3 separate regions of the Homo sapiens genome follow, and regions 2 and 3 are each linked to region 1. The links come from fine-mapping of genetic effects on gene expression. A gene starts in region 1. Each other region holds a variant in brackets. All regions are shown on one strand. Distances are between the middles of the regions.

Region 1 (8,194 bases):
GTGGAACCATGAACACATACTTGGATATGTGCAGGTTCAATACAGATCTACAAGTATATTTTTCTCCACCCAGGTAATTGTTCTTTCCACACATAATTCATTAAGACATTAAAAATAGCATTTTCCATTACTTGAAATGGTCACTTTAACTCCAAGAAAAGCTGCAAAAGTGCATCCTGAGCTGCTATTTACAAAGCAATGTATAGCCCAAAACAAGCACTGAGCATCACATTTAATAAGACACTGTTCAATATATTAAAGTGAGATGGAGAAAAGAATCGTGACACTATTGAATAGTTTATACTAAATTTTTATAAATTATTGAAAAAGTAGTTTTATAAATGGATTATTGCCACTGTCACTGTCAGTTATTTTGCTTAATAATATATTGTAAAACATCTGAAAAATGAGGTATATGTAAAAAATCTGAAAAATATAATAGTGACTACAAATATAAAATATAAATTCATAGTTTATAAATTCTGTCTGAAAGGCAGAATCCTGTAATTTTGATGTTCATAGAAAAACATTTCATGTATTGAAGACTATCTTTTATGCTTTTACAAAATAATAATTAACATACTTCTGAAAATTCCAAAGCTAAAATTTCAATTTTTGAACCATTCACTTACCTTAATTAAAAATTTAAAAATGAGTTTATAAGCTGCTATGTAATGTAAGTGTAACTTTGGGAGGTCCTCATATTAACATTGTCCCTCCATATCAACAAAGTGAGAATGTGAATTTAAGTGCTTTTCGTTATTTGTGTTATAGAAAAACCTTATCAAACTTGGAAAAAAAACAATTTGGTACAATTACCTTTAATTACACAATGCTAAGCGTTTTGTCTTCTCAAAGTGATCTTGACTTGAGTGTTTTAGCTTTGAATTCTTTTTTCTAGTATTAGTATATCCTAAGTATGAGGTATACTGTTTATCTAAAAATATTATGTTTGTATATATTTTTAAACCTTTGTGTATAATTTTCATTCTGATGAAATCTTATACTGCATATATAATTTTTAAAAATTAGTTGGAATTATTTCAACTTGATGGGAAGTTTAAATTATTTTTATATCCAAAACCAATGTTTGTTCTGCCTTTGTCATCTTTTTTTTTCCACTTTGTATTCTCTGTTTCTCTACTTTATGAGAGAGATGCCTTATGTTGTTTAGCTTTTCTAGTAATCTTAAGTAAAACTTTCTCTTTTTTTTCCTTCTAGTGGTTTCTTTTATACATTCCAAGTAATATTAGGTTGGTGCAAAAGGAATTGTGGCTTTGCCATTACTTTTAATGGTAAAAACCGCAATTATGTTTGCACCAATCTAATAATACTTAGATTATAATTTAATAATTATCAAAATAAAGTGTTTCGGGTGAGTCATTCACTTTTTCATTTACTTATTTGTTTATTTATTTTAAAATTGACATTTATTGAGTATCTAATATGAGAGATTTGATTTGCTCGGCTCTGAGGATGCTTTACCAGACACTGTCCTTACATCGGTGATTTCACTGAATTTTGGAGAATTCCTAAATATAAGTTGATTTTCATAATATCATGAGGGAAATATTATTAAAGAGAATAATTGTTTGAACAAATCAATTTCTTACCCCTAGTCAAGGCTATTGGTAGCTACATTATCTTAAAATAATTTAAAGGATGGGTCGCTATCATGTCCAAAGGACATTTGAGACCTCCTGATGATGGTTCTGCTTGAAGAATGTATAGGGATTAGCTACATTTGAGGGGAGTGGGCAAAGGGAGCACCAAGGAGATAGAGGTTTGCCTATCACAAAGCTGAGAATGTCAGTGCGATATGAGTAGGAAACAGCAAACAGCAACAGAAGAAAATGCTGTTCCTACCACTTTGACCTGTCAGAATTCTAATCATGCTCCAGGTCTGGAAGCATCTGTCCTCTTCTCTAGGAGCATCTCCTGAGGCTAGGTTAGACACACAGGTGCTCCTATGACACCCAGTATAACTCTGACATTTTGTAATGACTTGAGTACATATCTTTGAGGAGCATGCCTATTAACAAGTTTAACCTGTGTTTTTCTACTATTTTCAAAACAAGTTGCCTTTTGATAAATCTGATCTGTCCTCTTCATCTTACCCAATAAGGCAGAACATGTGACTGTACTTCCTATCAGATGCTAATCTTAAAACAGTGTATTTTATTAATGGAGGTTAGGATGAATACCTCCTCTGATGGGGCACAAAAGAGAGTTCATTTGGTGGCACTCATGATTCCTATGGTGTTAATTTTTGTAAGCATTGCCAAAATGGCTGCCAGCCTGAGTAGAAAATACAAATATGGGTATTGAGCACTTAAAATGTGGTAGCATGTTTTAACATATTACGTCCTTTAATCCTCTTGGCAATTTAATTTTTGTTATTATAAATTCTAACATACATATGCAATTTTACAATTAATCCAATTACATGTTGATTGATTTTTACAACCTGAATCTTGTATATCTCACAACCAAATCAAGTAAGGGAATATGACCAGCAACTAACAGGACCCTTCTACCACATACTGCCTTTCAGTTATCACTCTCTCTCACTTTTTAAAAAGATTTTTCTATTTCTAATAGCACAGAATAATTTGATCCGTTTTTGTATTTCATTTAAAGATCACAAGATGTTACATCTATTTTAAGTCTTTCTAAAAAAAATTAACACATATTGTGAGATTCGTCTATATTATGCATATAGTCATAGATTGTTTATTCTTATTGTTACGTGGTATTTCATTGTGGGAATGTACCAAAATTTATTTACCCATTTGATGTTGATGAACATTTAGGTTTTTTCCAGTTTTAGGCTATACTACAAATCATGTTTCAATAAGCATTCTAATTGATGTATTCTAGTAAATATATATACATAGTTTTGTTGGAAATGGCAATGGTGGTCATGTGTATGTTTATCATTATGAGATATCTAATAAAGAGTTGTTCTAATTTACATGTCTACCAGCAGTAAATGAGAGTTCCAGTTGTTCTACATCTTTGCCAATGCTTGGTATTTTTAGTTCTTTTCATTTTAGCTGTCCTGTTTGGTATGTCACTACATACCAAAAAAAGGTGCTTTGTCATGAGAGATACAATTTTTACTTATTTTTCTGATTAATATAAAAGTTTGTGCCTATTTACCTGTTCATTGGCAATTTTATTTCTCTTTTGAAGTGTATGTTTCTTCCTGCAACTTTTTCTTACTGATGTTGTTGAAGTACTTTATATATTTTCTGTATGTATGCATTTGGATATCTTCTAGTTTGCGTTGACTAGATACATAAAGAACAAGAAAGATATCTTGAAAAGTGAAAAAATTGAATCAAAACTTCATTGACTTTTTTAATTTTAAATTTTTGTGGGCACATAGTAGGTGTATATATTTATGGGTGTATGAGATATTTTGATAGAAGCATACAATGTGTAATAATCCCTTTTAAAGGGCCGGGCACAGTGGCTCATGCCTGTAATCCCAGCACTTTGGGAGCCTGATGTGGGTGGATTACCTGAGGTCAGGAGTTGGAGACCAACCTGACCAATATAGTGAAACCCCATCTCTGCTAAAAATACAAAAATTAGCTGGGCGTGGTGGCATGTGCCTGTAGTCGCAGCTACTCGGGAGGCTAAGACAGGAGAATTGCTTGAATCCGGGAGGTGGAGGTTGCAGCCAAGATTGCGCCACTGCACTCCAGCCTGGGCAACAAAGCAAGACTCTGCCTCAAAAAAAAAAAAAAAAAAAAAAAAAAATCCCAGTAAAGTAAATAGGGGTATCCATCATCTCAAACATTTATCCTTTGTGTTACAGACAACCCAATTATATTATTTTAGTTATTTTAAAATATACAATTAAATTATTATTGAGTATAGACACCCAATAAATTTACTAATTTTTGAGACCCCAAGCTTCATTGAGTAATAATTTAATTAAAATTTCAAAATTCTTTGAACAGTGCCTGAGTACCCAAGAATAAATATCAGTCAGTCATTAAGAATAAAAATTAAAAAGTCAACATCTCATCTCTCAGATCATCAGTGAGGTAATCAAATGACTCTTCTTTAAAATTATATCTATATTGAGATGAGTATAGTTATAGTTAAGTAAGATATTCTAATAAAAATACCATTTGAAAAGTCAGAATTATACTTGATTATAAATCTATGAGATTGGGAATATGTCTTTTTATAAAATAATTGATGTTTGATTGGCATCTGTGTTGAAAACTTAGACTGCTCAATAAGAATTTTTTACTGAATCAATTAATTAATCAATCAATAAAACTAAACAGACAAACAAAATTATTTCTTGGCACTCAGAAATTTGGTTGTTGGACCATTAAAATGCATTATGGAATTTTTAAAAGTTGGGGGAGAGGGAGACAGTAAAAATAACCTATATTTTCTCTTGTTTTTTTTTTTAACTCTAGGAAAGCCCAGACAAATTTTGAGCTATTTCATAACCTACCAGACTTATCATGCTAACACTGAATAAAACAGACCTAATACCAGCTTCATTTATTCTGAATGGAGTCCCAGGACTGGAAGACACACAACTCTGGATTTCCTTCCCATTCTGCTCTATGTATGTTGTGGCTATGGTAGGGAATTGTGGACTCCTCTACCTCATTCACTATGAGGATGCCCTGCACAAACCCATGTACTACTTCTTGGCCATGCTTTCCTTTACTGACCTTGTTATGTGCTCTAGTACAATCCCTAAAGCCCTCTGCATCTTCTGGTTTCATCTCAAGGACATTGGATTTGATGAATGCCTTGTCCAGATGTTCTTCACCCACACCTTCACAGGGATGGAGTCTGGGGTGCTTATGCTTATGGCCCTGGATCGCTATGTGGCCATCTGCTACCCCTTACGCTATTCAACTATCCTCACCAATCCTGTAATTGCAAAGGTTGGGACTGCCACCTTCCTGAGAGGGGTATTACTCATTATTCCCTTTACTTTCCTCACCAAGCTCCTGCCCTACTGCAGAGGCAATATACTTCCCCATACCTACTGTGACCACATGTCTGTAGCCAAATTGTCCTGTGGTAATGTCAAGGTCAATGCCATCTATGGTCTGATGGTTGCCCTCCTGATTTGGGGCTTTGACATACTGTGTATCACCAACTCCTATACCATGATTCTCCGGGCAGTGGTCAGCCTCTCCTCAGCAGATGCTCGGCAGAAGGCCTTTAATACCTGCACTGCCCACATTTGTGCCATTGTTTTCTCCTATACTCCAGCTTTCTTCTCCTTCTTTTCCCACCGCTTTGGGGAACACATAATCCCCCCTTCTTGCCACATCATTGTAGCCAATATTTATCTGCTCCTACCACCCACTATGAACCCTATTGTCTATGGGGTGAAAACCAAACAGATACGAGACTGTGTCATAAGGATCCTTTCAGGTTCTAAGGATACCAAATCCTACAGCATGTGAATGAACACTTGCCAGGAGTGAGAAGAGAAGGAAAGAATTACTTCTATTTGCCTCTTATGCAGGAGTTCATAAAATCTTTCTGGAAGCACTGTATTGATCACAAAATGGAGTTTGTTAACTGGTGCATTCTCAATAAGTACCTTGGGAATCTCAACATCATTGGAAGGCCCACCAACATTTCTATAAATTTTTTACCTTCTCACTCATGTGAAGGACCAGTCTAATAATTAAACCATATTTTATTCGACAAAACCTAATGAGTCCATTTTTTATGAAAAGACAAATCTAAGTAGAAGGAGATGATGTGAGTCTTCTTTTCAATGATCACAATTTTCAGATTAATATTTCAGATTAATAGCCAGTTATTACTTTTGTCTAGAAAACATGTGCTATATATTTCTCATAACTACCAAAAACCTGTTTCTTCAATGACATTTTCCTGAAGGAGAATCTAGAGTGCATGCCATAAAGTCTAAAATGAGTTTTAAGTCTCTAAGCATCTAGCTAAAATATTATTAGGCTGAATAGGTCACATAATTATTTCACAACAGAATAATTGGATATTTCGTTTTCTTTAAAGGGGCTTTTTAAAAAGCACAGAGCCTGGAAAGAGAGGTAGAGATCTTAACCAAAAATAAAAAACAGTATAATTTTTTTCTAAGACCTGTATGAAAGGGGATCAAAATCTACTTGTTTCATTTTATCTCTAATTGTGAATCTAATAAGGAAAATTAGGTATATATTTCTAATATTTAAGATTTATCTAAATTAAAAAACAAGTGAGAAACTATAGAACATAGTATTTTCATATTAATGTCTCATAAACTAAGCCAATTATATAAGGAATATAAACTCAACTTTTACTGTTATTTTTCTGTGTCCAACTGACAAGAAAACATGTACTTCCCTGAAATTTAGTTAACTATAGTCGTCAAATTGCATTTATTCACTTAGTGAATCCTTCTTGACTATGTTGCATTTTACAAGCTGGCCAAACAGCAGTACCCACTAAAATATTATTATCCTCCATGTATCGCCCTATTTCAATATTTGCTACCCTAAAGCTAAAAGTCATCAGTATTCTCTTTACTTCCTCAACCTGACATCACTCTTCTCCTAGTTTGTCTTTCTCTTATCCCAGTTGTTATCTGAAATTGCTATTGTCAACTTCACCAATGCTTTTCCATGTTAACAAACTAAATAGTCCTCCTTCTTTGCTCATCTCACACTCTCTCAGGAATATTGATTTCAACTCAGTATTTCCAATATCTTGAAACACTATATCATTTTTATTTACTTCAGAGACACTACATATTTCATTTATGTAATACACTTTGTTTAACTTTGATTTGTTTTCTACATTCTCTTCCTAGGTGTTCTCCTTTAGTGTCATGGTCTTAAGTATTGGCTATAAAACTAATGATTCCCCAAAGGAAGCTAAGGTTCAGAGAACTGTTTTCCACGTACTTATTCTTCATGGCATACTATCTTTCTTAGACAGGTCAATATCTCCTTTTTCCCCCTGCATTCTCCATGTCTACTCCAATTTTCCATGTCCTGCTCCTCCAGTTTATCTCCCAGTGATTTTGGCATAACGTTTGTTATATTTTAGTTTCCTTAAAAATAGATGTTATTATTCAGTGATTTTATGTGTTTTAATTTAAATACATTTTATTGTGCTAAACAACTTAATCTGCTAATTTCTCACTCAATACTTTAAGATGTATTTATCTTAAATATCTTGGAACATGTATTTATATTTTATACTTGTCAATGTAATGTATATTACTTATTTCAAAATTGTTAAGTTGGCTAGATACAGTTTTGATAAAAAATTTGCATCTACTAACTTCACAACACACAAAAATCACCTGTGCTTCCATACACTATCTTGAACAATGTGAAATGGAAATTAAGAAAACAATCTTTTTTACAGTAATAATATTAAAAAGAATATAACACTTTGGAATAAATTTAACCAAGAAGGCAAACACTTATAAACTGAAAACTACAAAACTTTTTTTTAAAGAAGATGCAAATAAATGGAAAGATATTTTATGTTCACATTTTAGAAGACTTGCTAGTGTTAAAATTCTCGTACTGCATGAGGTAACTATGAACTTAGTGCAATCCTTATTTAATTCCCAATGAAAATTTTTATAGAAATAAAAAAGCAGTGCTAATATTCATGTGGAACCACAAAGGACTATAAATAACCAAAACAATCTTAAGAAAGAACAAAGTTGAAGGCCTCACACCTCATTATTTAAAAACATATTATAAAACGACAACAATTAAAACAGTATGTATAAATAAGTGTAATAAATTAAAACAGCACAGTATTAAGACACATAGACCAATGGAATAGAGAGCTCAGAAATAAACCCATGCACATACGGTTAATGGATGTTCAACAAGGGTGGCAAGAAAACACAATGGGGAAAGACATTCTTGTCAACAAATGAATTTGGGAAAACTGAATATCCATATGCAAAAGGATGAAATTGGACTCTTATCTTACACCACATACAAAAATAGATTCAAAGTGGATCAAAGACTTAAACCAAAGAACTAAAACCACAAAACTCCTAGAAGAAAACAAAATAGAAACATTTCATAACATTGGTCTTGGCTATGATTTCTTAGTTAGGACATTAAAAACACAAGGAAAAATAGCAAAAATAGGCAAATGGGACTATATCAAACTGAAAAGCTTTTGCACAGCAAAGAAAACA
Region 2 (8,194 bases), 23 kb before region 1:
GTGGCAGCTGTAGTGCGAGGCTCCCTGCTCATGCTCCCATGTCCCTTCTTTATTGGGCGTTTGAACTTCTGCCAAAGCCATGTGATCCTACACACGTACTGTACATGGCTGTGGTGAAGCTGGCCTGTGGAGACACCAGGCCTAACCGTGTGTATGGGCTGACAGCTGCACTGTTGGTCACTGGGGTTGACTTGTTTTGCATTGGTCTCTCCTATGCCCTAATTGCACAAGCTGTCCTTCGCCTCTCATCCCATGAAGCTCGGTCCAAGGCCCTAGGGACCTGTGGTTCCCATGTCTGTGTCATCCTCATCTCTTATACACCAGCCCTCTTCTCCTTTTTTACACACCGCTTTGGCCATCACGTTCCAGTCCATATTCACATTCTTTTGGCCAATGTTTATCTGCTTTTGCCACCTGCTCTTAATCCTGTGGTATATGGAGTTAAGACCAAACAGATCCGTAAAAGAGTTGTCAGGGTGTTTCAAAGTGGGCAGGAAATGGGCATCAAGGCATCTGAGTGACCCTGGAGTATAGAGGGACTTAATCCAAAATAAAAAAAAAACCTTTTCAAGATAATCCTCAGTATGTGAGACCAGAAAGAGCTTTTAAGAGGGGGATAATGTCTTCTGCAGAACTTTCTAGACCATTTCCAAGAATGATAAATCACAGAGAAGGGCATTCTTTCTTTCCTTTCAGAGAAGTGTAAACATGGGAAGATTCTTGCAACCTGGGTAACGTGCAGATATTGAAAACAACCCACTGTGTTCTGGAGGGTTTCTACCCTGCTGCAGTTTAGAAGAGTCCCTGCATAGCCATAAGATCTCTTCTCATTTCCTGGCACCCTTCCAATATTCCAGGCATGGATTTCTAATTTCATACCTTAGGATATACCAGCTATCTTACCAGCTGCAAGAATCAGAAGATAGGACAATATAGCCACAGTTAAAGTAGTTAAAGCCGCAAAAAATTTATCATGCTTTTCCATAAACCCTGTATTTCTCCATTAGAGCTTCAAACCAAGAGGAGAAAAAGATCCACCAGCATCCACAATGTTACTTAGTGGCAGAACAAAGCTGTGAAAACTAGAATCCTTTAGGACTTCTATGAATGAGGGCACAAGAGAGGTTAGGAATAACTCTTCATTTCTAGACATTTTCTATTTATCTCACAGGTACACTCCTGTCTCCAGCCTCTCAGGAACTAACCTAAGTCTGAATGACCTTGGATATCATCCCTCACAAGCAGTTTCCAATTATTCTTGTACATACATACAATGGGAGGACCTTTCAGAAGTCATTGACTTATCTCCTGAACCTATAAGAAATGGCCACTTACCCAAACCACTCAGAATGGGAATTCTTAATTATGAAATTAGTCTGTATTTATTAATTCTTCTATTTATTTATAATGAAAAGAAGATTAAGCTTGATTCTAGTAACTCCATGTGGTGATGGAAAGTTCCTAACTATATCCATGAAACTAAGATTGGAAACCAGTTACTGTACATACTGAGCTTTCTGTCCACTCCTCACCAAATAGCTTCAGACAATTTATCAAACACATTCTCTTAACAAATTAGCATTTTCAATTTTGAGTTCGCCAATAGTACACATTTTTTGCTTGTCATCCGCTTATATGCCATCCTACCCTGTTAGGTGGAGGGAACACAAAACTCCCTTGTGGAAGTTCACAGACACTCCTGTCCTGGGAAAGTATCAGTCCTGAGGTAGAAAGCCAATGCCCAGCTCTTCAAAGCTCTGTCTCTGTCAGGAATATAAGTGTTTTATTGGGACACTTCAAATATGTTGGGATAAACAGTGCACAAATAGTGAAACTCAGTGAAGTAGGCTGAGCACTGTCCATTTTTCAGAGAAAAAATAATCACTTTTTATAGGGAGAGTACTAGTATATGGGCTGTCACTGGTTTTAATTTTTTTATTCTAACCCTCAATTTTTTTTATTATACTTTAAGTTCTAGGGTACATGTGCACAACGTGCAGGTTTGTTACATATGTATACATGAGCCATGTTGGTGTGCTGCACCCATTAACTCGTCCTTTACATTAGGTATATCTCCTAATGCCATCCCTCCCCTCACCCCCACCCCACAACAGACCCCGGTGTGTGATGTTCCCCTTCCTGTGTCCATGTATCTAATCCTTAAATTGAGATTTTTTTTTTTTTTTTTTTTTTTGAGGCAGAGTCTCGCTCTGTCACCCAGGCTGGAGTGCAGTGGCATGATCTCAGCTCACTACCAGCTCCGCCTCCCAGGCTCACACCATTCTCCTGCCTCAGCCTCCCGAGTAGCTAGGACTACAGGCACCCGCCAACACACCCGGCTAATTTTTTGTATTTTTTAGTAGAGACGGGGTTTCACCGTGTTAGCCAGGATGGTCTCGATCTCCTGACCTTGTGATCCGCCTGCCTCAGCCTCCCAAAGTGCTGGGATTACAGGCGTGAGCCACCGTGCCCGGCCGAGATATTCTTAATAGATTTTTAAGATTTATATACAATTCTAACACTACAGTTCATCAACAAAATTACTTTTGTGTTCTCCAAATTGACCATTTTTCTAGCACAGAAACCTACAACCCCAACTGTGTAACAATCTTATACTGTATCATGGGTTTCTATACTTTGTAGAACGTTTCTAAAGTGTATTGTAAGCAATATACTTATAAGCACTGCTTGTTCATAACTTCTCACTTTAATGTGAATCTCAATGCTAGATGTCTATGTGTTCACCTTTTATGATTTACAATAATAAGTTTATATCATGATCAACCCCTTATACACCTCCGGCCACTCATGTTTGTAATATTACATTGATTTCAATTCCATAAAAAATGAAATGACAAGGAATAAACTGTCTCCAATTATAATCCTCATATAAACTTTTGATGTGTATAGCCATTATTTCCTCCTTTCTTGCTATATTTATTTATTGCCAATTTCTTTTTCCTCTCAAGAAAGCCTCTTATAATATGCCTTTGGGATCCCAGACTATCAGTTACTTCTTGGATGTCTCCTGTTTATAACCCATTTGAATTTACTGGCACATTTGCCCCATAGAAAAATTTCTCATAACCTTAGTGATTTTTTTTAAATGAAAGTTCATGAAAAATATTTTTGGAACTAATTATTGCTGCATTCTTATGTCCTATTCTTTTCTTATATTACAATCTAACTTCAACCAGAAGTTGATGTTTCCAGAGAAATACCTGTCATCAAAGCCAGCAGTAACCATTTTTTTTTTTTTTTTTTTTGAGATGGAGTCTCACTCTGGTGCCCAGGATGGAGTGCAGTGGCACAATCTCAGCTCACTACCAGCTCTGCCTCCCGGGTTCATGCCATTCTCCTGCCTCAGCCTCCTGAGTAGCTGGGACTACAGGTGCCCGCCACCATGCCTGGCTAATTTTTTGTATTTTTTGTAGAGATGGGGTTTCACTGTGTTAGCCAGGATGGTCTCGATCTTCTGACCTCGTGATCCGCCCGCCTCAGCCTCCCAAAGTGCTGGGATTACAGGCGTGAGCCACCACGCCCGGCCAGCAGTAACCATTTTTAACAGAACTACCTTAAATTGTGTTATATTATGACTTACTTCTCCAAAATCTATCCACTGTGATTTCTATGATCCCACACAATCCCAGCTTTTCTTTCATGTCTCTAATGTTTTTCATCCTCTTCCCCTTATTTTATTTTTAATGAACCTGACTTTTAAATGTTGGTGTTTCTCAGAGATCCATCTTTGGCTAACTTCTCACTCATTCCAATCTAAGTCCATAGCAATGGGGACCATGAAAGGAAGAGCTGAAAATCCAGAACAGTGTCAAGGCAGAGGGCTTCCTGCAGGAGACAGCAACTAGATGTCTATGCAGAAAACACTGTGCTCTTCATTGCATTAGGAAACTTCTCTTGCCTTTTTGTTTCTTTCAATTATGACCGATGGTGTGCTTAACTAATTCCTTCCCACTGTCATTATTTCTTGCTTCTGATGATATCATCTTGAACTCACCTTGACTATAAGCAGACTTCAAATTATATTAGTATTTGGAATCTGTTCCTTGTAAGAGTAAGCAATGTAGGATGGTCAAAAGGTACAGCCTCATCCCTTCCATTCGTGTATACTGTTCAGTTAATAGAGAATTTAGTCATAGTGTCTAATTTGAAGAGCAATGAAAACTAAAAACTTTCAGGAAGAATCATTTTCTAAGTGAGCACTGGACTAATGGACTCACATATTTGGCAGATTATGAAAAGGACATTGAGGAATTACTGCTCTATTACTTCATATTCTGCAGTCTAAGCGCTCTAAGTTGCTGAGGGTCGGATAAGTTCCTACATCTTATCCACTTCTCATTCATTGTAAATGAGCTTCTTTAAGCATTTTGTATGTTCAAGAAGTTTACTGGAAGAAAGCAGAGAAACCAGCAGGGGAGGCAAGAATTGTGATAATATCGAATTATTATTTGATGTAATACAGTAAAGGGTTTTCTGGCACCTCCAGAATTGTTGTGTACGTCTCAGAATTGTAAGCCTTTTCTCTACATTAAAAATAAGTTTCTCATTAATCTGCAGCTTCCTTCCTGTTCTTGGTCCAAACATTTCCCTAAAACATTACCAAATGGTAGCTCTTAATTTCCTCTAACTAAACATAACAAATGTATTATATCACACCTACCTACATAGGCAAACATTTAACCACATTTTCTAAGGTTAA[T/C]TGACAGGTACCATTCTTCCAATTTGAGGTAGGTCCCTGCCATGTGAGCCATGGAAAGTGGCTCTCATCACCCCTCCTTTTTTCAGCAACCATATGCTCTTATTTATCCAATTCTCTCTGACTTATCAACAATCTATTTTTCTCTCTACCAAATAGTTCATACCAACCTCCAAAGATGCATTATTTTTCCCGATTTTAAAACAAGAAATGCTTTTTAAAATTTAATTTTTATTTTTGATGTATATTTTCATTTTTAATTGACTAATATATATAAGGGATGCAATGTGATATTGTGATATATGTATACTTTGTGGAATGATTATATCAGTCTAATTAACATAACTATCACCTCATAAAGTTATTTTTTTTGCAGTAAGAACATTTTACATTTATTCTTTCGCAATTTTGAAACATACCATATATTACTATTGACTGTGGTCACCACGTTGTACAATAGTTCTTGAAAATTTACTCTTCCTGTCTAACTGAACCTTTATACACTTTGGTCAACATCTCCGCATCCCCCAGTTCCCCACCTTTTATCCTTTTCAGCATCTGGTAACCACCATTCTACTTTCTACTACAAATTACTCTAAACCCCAACTTCCAACTCTAAACTTCCAACTTCTGCCCTACATTTTCTTGTTTGTACAAACTTCTTTAAAATGTTATGTGCATAAATTTTTCTATTTCCTAGCCTTTAACTTACTCTTTAGCCCACTCCAATATGACTTTTTCTTATGCACTCCAAAAATAGACAGTTCTTTTCAAAAAGTCATTTGTAACCTCCAAGAGACTGAATCCATCAATATTACTTTAAACTATGTTTCATTAGATCTGTCAGTACAGTAAAATTATGAATCAATTTCTTTGCCTTCTTCTTTAAAAATCAATCTGTCTTTTCCTATATAGGTTATTTTCGGTCTCTTTTTCTTTCTCAACATTTACCTAGACATCATGATGAGTTTCTAGAAACTACATGCTAGACCACCTTCTTTCTGTCACTATCCTCACTTGCTAAAACATCTATTTGTGCTAATAGCATTAATTCAAATATTCCAGTAATTTCCAAATAAAATACTAGTCACTCCAGTTTTTCTCAAATTGTTCCTTTGCTCTCTGGAACTACTTTTTCCTCTCTTTGCTAAATAATAATCTCTTGGATGCTTCAAAGGTAGGCACCTCATATTGGTCATGACCTCATTTGAACTCATTCTCTTCCCTTATAATCTGGTTCTTCTCCAGTCATCCTTAGGTACATGAATGACATATTCCATTCCAGTGCATGTATGAGAAACTTAGAGTTATTTTGGGGTCATAAATATTATAAAATTTACATCCAGTATAACTTCTATATCCATCCATTTCTCTATATCTTCATAGCTTAAAATAAAGCTGTCTCACCCTTGAAGTACTGTTGTCAGTGCTCATCCAACTTACTTATATTTATTCTTGCCATGTACAATCTGGTCTTCACATTGCTGCCATGCCTAAATTATCCTAAACCTTTTCAGTGGCTCCATATTGCTTTAGCATAAATTTGCTTAAAATTATCTGACCACTATGACCTCAACAGCACCATCTCACATCACCTCCCATGTTCCACCACACCTTGAGGTTTCCAGACACATTGTTGTCACCTTGAGGTTACCTTGTTGTTACACTGAGATTACCAGACACATTGTTGTAACACTCTGTTGTTACCTTGACTATGCCTTGATCCCTCTCATTTTAACATTCAAAGATTCCTGGATAAAAAGTCTTTTTTATCCCCACCCCAACACACACACCATAGTTATCTTCTACTCAAACAATTGCCCTCAGAACAAACATTTTTTCAGGATATCCTCTCTGACAACAAGAGATTATTTTTTTCTTCATGTGAACTCTTATCACTTGGTACTTTTGCTTTAAAGCACTAATCCCAGTCTATTATTATATATTTGCTTGATTTTGTTGTTATTATTCTCTCCCCCCACCTCAACTAGACCACAATTTCAATGAGAACAGGAACGATGACTGTTCTATTGATCACTTTATGCCTAACATGTTTTTCAAACACAGACAGAACTAAATATGTATTTTTGAATGAAAGCTTTCTCCTTTAAAAATGTTTAAATAAATCTCCTAGCCACAGAATTTAGAACACCCAGAGTTTGTGTGCTTAAAAACCATTCAAACACTCTAAAATTTCTCACCTTTATAGGTCCATTTTGATTTAATAAATGAAGATATTCTTCTATTCATGTAAATTCTTAGGTTACATTAATAGGATACATGTTTTTGAGTTAATCTGCTTTCTATTCTAGTGGGATTTAACATCCTAGGAATTCAGCTTTCTCTATAGGTCTTTCATCATGTCTGCAAATGAGATCTATTATGCTTAGGTCACTGAGCTGCTTTACTACTCTCCATAAATTTCAGAAGTTTATAATTTCTGTGCCACATCTTAGCTGACAACACATTTTTATCTTGTGTTAAAGCATCTTTCTCATAAAGTTCTGTCTTTGCCCAGTAGAAAACTTCTGCCACGCCTAGGATCCCAGACTGTGAGTCTGTGTTCATAAGCAAGGTAAGTGATAAAATCTTCTCATGGTCACTTTGGCTAAATTCCAGAGAGTTCAATGGCTTATCCTAAACATTATGTTGTTTTGTCAACATTCTGCAAAAAGATTGACATTTCTCTCTGTTTTAGTAGCATATAGAGGATTAGAGGGCCTTTCCAAAAAAGGTTGAAGTCAGAATTAGAAAATATTAAGGCTCACATGGTGCACTAGAAGTTACCTTGTCTGTAATCAAAAAACAACACTGCCAGATTATCTTCAGGGTTAATATATTAACTGTTTTATATAGCAGAATCGTATTCTATGTCATGCTAGAATATAATTGTAAAAAAAATTAAAAACAATTCTTTTTCTGTGAGCTCAAACATACTACTTCTCTTAATTGTATCACACATATACAAATCAGAAAAAAATTTTAATAGAGAAAACATCAAAGATAAAATGTTATGTGATATTAGGATGTAAAGTAATAAATGAGTATTAAGTAAAAATGCCAGGCCTTGTACATCAAATGGGTTACATACTTCCACGCATCCAGGATAAAACTATTGTGTTGAACCCCTTCAGAATTCTCCTCTAAAAGCTCAAAGTCAAACTAGCTTTACCTCCATTATTGCTTGTGCTCTTTAGTCATTGAAATTTTCTGTAGATACATTTAGATAATTTTACTCTTTATCAAATTACATTCACCATTAAAGAAGGATGATTTACTCCATCATTTGGGAGTATATGTTTATTCAAACATACAGGCAGTAAGAAACCTCTGAAAGGAAATACATTTAGTTTTTAATAAGAATTGATACAACAAAAGAATTTTATTTTCTTCCAGATTTTTTTGGTATTTAACAATAATTATATCAAAAATCAACCCATAACTAATATATTAAAAATAACATTTTAACCTTTGAAC
Region 3 (8,194 bases), 42 kb after region 1:
GTTTACCAAGAGTAGCAATAATGAATATCTTTGCTTCATTACTAAGGACTGGGTATAATGATGCCTACTGAGGGTAATGAAACTTAGTTCCAAATGATTATATAAAGACCTAGACTAATGGTACAGTGCAGAAGCATAGCTATGCCATAATAAAAAATAATATATTTCACTTAACAATGCCCTCTAGGTTCATCTATGTTGTTGCTTGTGACAGAATTTTCTGAATTTTTTAAGGCCAAATAGTATTCCATTGTGTACATATTCCATATTTTTAAACCCATTCATTCATTGATGGACACATTTTGACTATTGCAAATAATACTGCAATGAACACGAGGTTGCAGACATCTCATTAACATATTGATTTCAATTTCTTTGAGCATATACCCAGTGAGACTGCTGGATCATATGGTAATTCCGTGTTTGATTTTTTGAGGAACCTCTATACTGTTTTCTAAAAGAACTATACTAATTTAAATTCCCAACAAGAGTGTATAATGGTTCACTTTTCTCAACATTTTCATCAACAGCTCTTATCTTTCATCCTTTTGATAATAGCCAATGTAACAGGTGTGAGGTAATGTCTTATTATGGTTTTAATTTGCAGTTCTCTAAAGATTAGTGATGTTGAGCATTTCCTCACATACTTTTTGGCCACTTGTATGTCTTCTTTTGAGACATTTTTATTCAAGTCCTTTCTCTACTTTTTATAGGGTTTTTTTTTTGGCAATTGAGTAGTTTGAATTCCTTGTTTATTTTGGATATTAGTCCTTATCCAGCATATGATTTGCAAATTTTTTTTCAATCTGAGAAGTTATCTCTCTATTGGTATTTTTGGCTATACAGAAGCATTTTAATATAATCCAATCTCAATTGTTTATTTTTGCTTTTGTTGCCTGGTGCTTTTGGGGTCACAGTCATTAAATCTTTGCCCAAACCAATGTCATGGAGCTTTTCTCCTATGTTTTCTTTTATTAATTTAATGTTTCAAGTTTTATATTTGAATCTTTAATTTATTTTGAGTTGATTCTTGTATAAGAGACAAGCTAAGGGTTCATTTATATTTTCTGTATGTGGATATCAATTTTTCCCAATACCATTTATTGAAGACAGGTCCTTTTCTTTTTAAATGTGTGGTTTGCTTCTGGGATCTCTAGCCCATTCCATTGGTCAATGTATCTGTTTTTATGCCAGTACCATGCTGTTCTGATTACTATAGCTTTGCAATATATTTTGAAATTCTGTAGTGTGGTGTCTCCAGCTTTATTCTTTTTGGTCAATATTGCTTTGACTAATTAAGGTCTTTTATAGTTCCATAGAAATTTTAAGATTTTTTTCCATTTCTGTGAAGAATGACATTGGAATTTTTATAGAGATTGCATTGAATCTGCAGATTGCTTTGGGCTTTATAGACATTTTAAGAATATTAATTCTTCCAGTCCATGAACACGAGATATCATTCCATTTATTTATGTCATCTTCAATTTCTCTTTTTTAACTTTTATTTTAGATTTGGTGGTACTTATATTTCTAATTTTATACTGTTACTATATTTTATTGATTGTCATAGCATTATAATACATTTTTAAATTAGTGTAAGCACTGTCAATTAGGTCCTTCTTTAAAAAGATTCTTTGGATATCCTTTGTCCTTTGCATTTCCATAGATAATTTAGAATTAATTGTGTAATTTCTACAAAAAGCTGTCTTGGATTTTTGTGAAGACAATATTGAACCTATAGATCAATTTGAGATTCCACAAACTGCACTCATAGGATGGCAAACTTAATTTATAAATGTTGTATGTATTCTCATTGCTACACTGGCCAGCCACTCTCCTGTCTCTCTCCCTCTTCTTGGGCCCCCCTATTCCTTCAGGCACAACAATATTGAAATTAGGCCAATAAATGACCCTGCAATGGTCACTAAGTGTATAGTGAAAGGAAGAGTCACATACCTCTCAATTTAAATTAAAAAATATATATATAAATGATTAAACTTAGTAAGAAAGGCATGACAAAAGCTGAGATAGACCAAAAGCCAGTCCTCTTATGCCAAACAGTTATCCAAGTTGTGAATGCAAAAGAAAAGTTATTGAAGGAAATTAAAGGGATACTGCAATGAACACATAAATGACAAGAAAGCAAAACAGCCTAATGGCTGATATAAAGAAAGTTTAAGTGGTCTAGACCAAACCAGCCACGATATTCCCTTAAGCCAAAACCTAATCTAGAGCAAGGCATCAACTATTTTAATTCTTTTAAGCCTGATAAATGTAAGGATGTTGCAGAAGAAAAGTTTAAGTTAGCAGAAGTTGGTTCATGAGGGAAAGAAGCCATCTCCATAACACGCAAGTGCAAGTGTTGATGTAGAACCTGCAGCAAGTTATCCAGAAGATCCCACGATCATTGATAAAAATGGATTCACTAAACAACAGATTTTCAATGTAGATGAAACAGCCTTCTCTCTCTCTCTCTCTCTCTCTCTCTCTCTCTCTCTATATATATATATATATATATATATATATTTATTTATTTATTTATTTATTTATTTTGAGACAGAGTTTCACCATTGTCACCCAGGCTGGAGGGCAGTGGCCCGATCTTGGCTCACTGCAACCTCTGCCTCCCCGGTTCAAGTGATTCTCCTGCCTCAGCCTCCCAAGTAGCTAGGATTACAGGCTCCCTTGCCACGTCTGGCTAACTTTTTGTGTTTTTAATAGAGACAGGGTTTCACCATGTTGGCTAGACTGGTCTCAAACTCCTGACCGCAAGTGATCCACTCACCTTGGCCTCCCAAAATGCTGGGATTACAGGCATGAGCCACCGTGTCTGGCTGAAACAGCCTTCTTTTGGAAGAGCATGTCATCATAGAGAGGATAAGTCAATGTCTGTCTTCAAAACTTCAAAGAACAGGCTGACTATCTTGTTAGGGGCTAATGCAGCTGGTGACTTTAAGTTGAAACCAATGCTCATTTACCAATCCCCAAATCCTAGGGCCCTTAATAATTATTCTAACTCTATGTTGTCTTTGCTCTCTA[T/C]ATAGAACATCAAAGCCTGGATGACAGTACATACGTTTAGAGCATGGTTTATTGAATATTTTAAGCCCACTGTTGAAACCTACTGCTCAAGAAAAATGGATTCCTTTCAAAATATTCCTGCTCATTGACAATGTGCCTGGCAACTCAAGAGCTGTAATGGAAATGTACAGGGAGATTAATTTATTTTCAAGGCTGCTCATACAACATCCATTCTGCAGCACATGGAACAAGAAGCAATTGTGACTTTCAAGTCTTATTTATTTAAGAAATACATTTTGTAAGACTATAGCTGCCATAGATGGTAATTGTTCTGATGTGCATGTGTAAAGTCAATTGAAAACCTTCTAGAAAGGATTCACCATATTAGATACCATTAACAACATTTATAATTCATGGGATGAGGTCAAAATATCAACATTAATAGGGGTTAGAAATAAGTTAGTTCTAACCCTTATAAATGGCTTCGATGGAGTCAAGACTTTACTGGAGGAAATCACTAAAGATGTGATGTAAATAGCAAAAGAAATAGAATTGAAAACGAAACCTGATAATGTGACTGAATTGCTGCAATCTCATGATAAAACATGAATAATGTGGAGTTGATTTTTGTGGATGAGCAAAGAAAATGGTTCCTTGAGATGGAATCTACTCTTGGTGAAGATGTTGTGAACATCGTTGAAATGACAACAAAGGATTTTGAATATTACCTGGATTTAGTTGAGAAAGCAGTAGTATGGTTTGAGAGGATTAACTCTGAAAGCTGCTTCACTGTGGGTAAAATGCTATCAAATAGCATTACATACCACAGGCAAATCTTTCATGAAAGTAAAAGTCAATCAATGGGGCAACATTTATTGTCCTATTTTAAGAAATTGCCACAATCACTCCAAACTTCAGCAACCACCACCCTAAGTAGTCAACAGCAGTCAAAGACTCTCCACCAGCAAAAAGATTATGGCTCACGGAAGGCTCAGATAATCGCTAGCGTTTTTTAGCAATAGCATATTTTTAAAAAGGTCTATATATTTTTTAGGCATAATGCTATTGTATACTTAATAGACCATGGTATAGTGTAAACATACATTTTATGTGCACTGAGAAACCCAAAATTCATGTGACTCACGTTATTGCAGTGGTCTGAAACCAAATCTGTGCTATGTCTAAGGTATGCCTGTATTATAACCAGATAAATAGACTTCATTTTAATTTCTCACACCTATTCATAAGTATATTATTATATATGCATAGCATTTATAAGCAGATATACCTGCTTAATACAGTTTTAATTCAGAAAACAAACAAAAAGCAAAAAAAAAAACCGAAGTAAGGATATTTTTCAAAGATTTTCTGACTTGAGGAACTTTGTAGCAGAGTCTAGGACTTGAAGCATTACCTAGCATCTGATAGCTTACTATTTATTTAAGTATTATTTTAAAAATGCTATTAATATTGTAACTCAGCAAGTTTTAAAAGGAAAGCTGACATCTATGTTTTTCATTTATTAGCTATCTGCTCTGGAATAAAGCTACACACCACCATATTGTTAATAATTGAAGACTCACTCTGGGCTGAAGCTCTATGGCATAGAGCTTATTTTATGTGTTTCGGTAAGCGAGCTGGCTCACTGAAAAAGAAAAAAGGACCTACATTTGTGGGGATTCTGTCCATCGTAGCTGCTTGTGCTAGAAGAAAGATGTGCCATTACATCATATTACTGTTTACCGTTTTCTCCTCTCCATAGACTGCATTCATTCTACAAACCCAAGGTATTAAATTGTGGTCACGATGTTCTTTGATTCCTTTCCAGACATCTGTCTACTTTGAGGATAATTTCAATCCCAGCCTTTGATGTTTCCTTAAACTTGATCAAGATGTACTAACGGGGATTGCAACAGAAAAGAATGCTATATTTCTACTGAAGTAAAGGGGAACAGTGATGGAGAGACAGTGCATTTAACAGTGTTAACCTTTCAAATAAAGACATAACTCAGCCTTATTGCAGAATATATATTTTAATGAGCCCCTAGCATAAAACATTCTGAAATTGTTTACTCAATATTTTTGAGAAAGCTTTAAAATACCCACATGGCACATGAATAAATATATAAAATGTTATGAAACTGGAATGGAACTGCCCTAGGGAGTCAGGTAAAATTCCAGGTTTATGATTCAATAGATGCTAGACACTTCACATGTCCCATCAATAATAAAATTTGAGATTTTTTTCTGTCAGGCATAGACATATTCTAATTATAGATCTATTTTCAACAAAGGTAAATTCACCTCCTTTTCAGAGACCTATGGGACATCTATCTGTAAAGCCCCAAAGAATTTTTTTACCTTGGCTTGGAAAATCCCCAGAGAAGATATTAAGTTTGTTACATAGGGTTCCTCATCAATATTGTGCAATTATTTCTAAGTAATATCAGTCATGAATGGGAATTTAAAAACATCTGGCACCAGGGTGAGTTTGGATGAAAATGGTTCAGATAAAAAGAAAACAAATATATAAAATGCACAAAATTGCTACTATATAGGAGGGATTTAAATGAGAGAGCAGTTGAATAAGGAAGTTCTGAATTACTTCACTCTTTAGAATTTTGAAACCAAGGAATTTGCAAATTGCCTTGAGGAGGGAGAAGAGGGAGAAAATTAAATGTAGTTTAGGTCCTGAAGGAAGGGGATTCCATGAGGCTGATGTGACAAGGACCAAAGAGATATAGGCAAGCATATTTCTATACAATAATAGAAAAACTTCTCTGCCCTCCATAGATGGAAGAGTATTCCTCAGGAAGCAGTAACATCTCTACCATTGAAAATGAATTAGTGTAAGAGTTAGGATGGAGGGTGGGAAGACGGAAAAGATCAGAAAAAATAACTAATGGGTACTAGACTTATTACCTGAGTGATGAAATAATCTCCACAACAAACCCCCATGACAAAAATTTAACTATGGAACAAACCTGCACTTGTATCCCTGAACTTAAAAGTTAAAAAAAAGAACACTTGGAAGAAATTCTAGTGATCATGTAGCCCAAGTTCTTGACGACATTAATGACATATGCCGTTTTCCCACTGCTTGATACCTCAGATGGCAGTGATCCCATTATCTTATTAGAAAATTTTATCTGTGTGAATGGGCAACATTCCTCAAAGCCAAATTTACATTTCTGTAACATTTTTCTATTTATAATATGTTTATTTTGGGGATATGCAAAATAATACAAAAGACAATTTGCATGCATCTACTACATGTACTCTTCCCAATTCTAAATATCTCCGATTTCATTAATTTTTAATTTTTGTAGATAAGATTAAGGACATCTTGAAACTTGAAATCATGTCTTCCTAATACGTTTTTATTTTTCAAAGTTTATTGTGACACTAATTTGTTAAGGTATTTATGTATAAGCAGGAGAACCATCCAAAAAGGAGATTTTAGAATTTATTCATCCATCCGTTCATTATACAGCTTGGGATGAACATAGCAGGCATTGATACTGCAAGTAGAAATATCTTTAATTGTACATGTTTGTTAAGCTTGAGAAAACTTCAGTAGGTATGGATGGACTGAGAGAATGAGAATTAGAATACTGGGAGATACATTCAGATATTTAAAAGAGCCCTAATTGTGTAGGATTTTGTAAACAAATATAAGGATGTTGGTGTTTGCTCTGAGTAAGACGGAAGTATCCAGGAGGTTTTAAGGGATGGCTGGATATAATTTTATTTTCACTTATTTTGTAGAGCGATATAATGATAATAATACTAACAATAATTGTGATAGTATTACGTATTTTTCTTATTATGTTCCAGGTTGTGCTGAAAAATTACATGGTTTACTTTACTTAACATTAAAAGTATTTTGCCTTAAAGCAAAATGCTTTAAAAATAATCAGTTCTATTTTTTATTGTTTTCTAGAAGGTTTTACTTTTATCTTTTTTATATACTGAGATTATTTATACAGCAACACTTGAAAAGATTTCCACTGATTAATGGTTAAAAAAAACTCTGTAGAAAACTCTAGGTTAAATCCCATCACAGCGATAGAGACAGACGGACACACACACACACACACACACACACACACACACACACAGAGAAAGAGAGAGAGAGAGAGAAGCAATCAAAATTAGAACTTTGAAGAAGGAGATTAACATATAACAGAAGATAATATAAAATAATTTGTTAAACTGCAATGATATGGAAAAATGAATAATTCAATTTGGTAATCTAAAGCAACCAATAACTGGGGAAATATTTTTAAAAAGAATGAAAGAAAGAAAGAAAGAAGGAAAGAAACAAAAGGTAAGACTATGGAGTCTCACTTTAATCAGAAAAGCTTACAAGGTTAGATTCATGTTTCAGACTTCAGAAGAAAGATGGAAAGCTAACCATTCTCAAAAACTGGACTAAAAAATTAGTAAAGATTTTATCCTACCCAATATAATTGTCTATAGTTATTTGGGGGCTAAAAATGATACATCAAAAGAAGGTATAAAATTATGATCATAGGTAATACATGTACTGTATATTAATAGTATATGTAAGCACACTTAAAGAGTGATATATATCATGGATTTATCATATGTATCATGCTTATATATATCATGCTTATCAACATAGAGATTTGAGGAGAGTTAACAAAAAGCATGAAAATTACGTAGAGCTTAATAATGTTATTAGCTAAATGCAAACATTTCAAAAATATTTCATGCTTACCATCAAGAAACCTGAAAGAATACAAAAAGAGACGAATACAAAATACACATGGCCATGATTTATAAATTGTAACTTATTATGTACCTTTTTGGCCCTTCCCATCTCTGTCCTTGATTTTTCTGACTTGGAAAATCCAGACCTGCCAGGTTTACACTTGTATATAGATCAAGCTGAATCATAATAGAAGTGCATAATTGGTAGGTGCTGACATAATTTGATTAACTATAACCCAGTGGACACATCTCAAAGTATTTCTTGAAAGAAGGGATAGTTTGTAGTGAATTAAGAAAATCAATGTTACTTAAATAGAGTTTATAATTTGGAAATTGGTTGAGGTTGCAAAGTCAAGCATTACTAAATGGCCCAGGAATGTAAGCAGACACATATAAACAGAGTTTCCAGTAGAAAACCAAGCCAGGCCAGGGCTTTGGC

Evidence for each region. PIP is the estimated chance that this variant, and not a neighbour inherited with it, causes the effect. A credible set is the group of variants that fine-mapping cannot tell apart.
Region 2: its variant is the best candidate, but not a certain one, in a credible set for the expression of OR52N4 in whole blood (TOPMed, PIP 0.65).
Region 3: its variant is the best candidate, but not a certain one, in a credible set for the expression of OR52N4 in blood mononuclear cells (TOPMed, PIP 0.90).

Annotation. Positions count from the first base shown.
Region 1 is chr11:5,750,248-5,758,441 of GRCh38, forward strand. OR52N4 (olfactory receptor family 52 subfamily N member 4) reads left to right here and starts at 3,996. Exons shown (of 2, transcript NM_001005175.5): 1 at 3,996-4,058; 2 at 4,446-5,711. The coding sequence starts at 4,494. The coding sequence ends at 5,459.
Region 2 is chr11:5,726,944-5,735,137 of GRCh38, forward strand. It overlaps a transcript of OR52N4 not described here and the pseudogene OR52P1. Among named protein-coding and RNA genes, the nearest start is that of OR56B1, 5.4 kb to the right of the region's middle. RefSeq lists a silencer at 7,222-7,422. The variant T/C (reference allele first, on the strand shown) is at 4,721.
Region 3 is chr11:5,791,930-5,800,123 of GRCh38, forward strand. No RefSeq gene overlaps it. Among named protein-coding and RNA genes, the nearest start is that of OR52N1, 4.8 kb to the left of the region's middle. The variant T/C (reference allele first, on the strand shown) is at 3,040.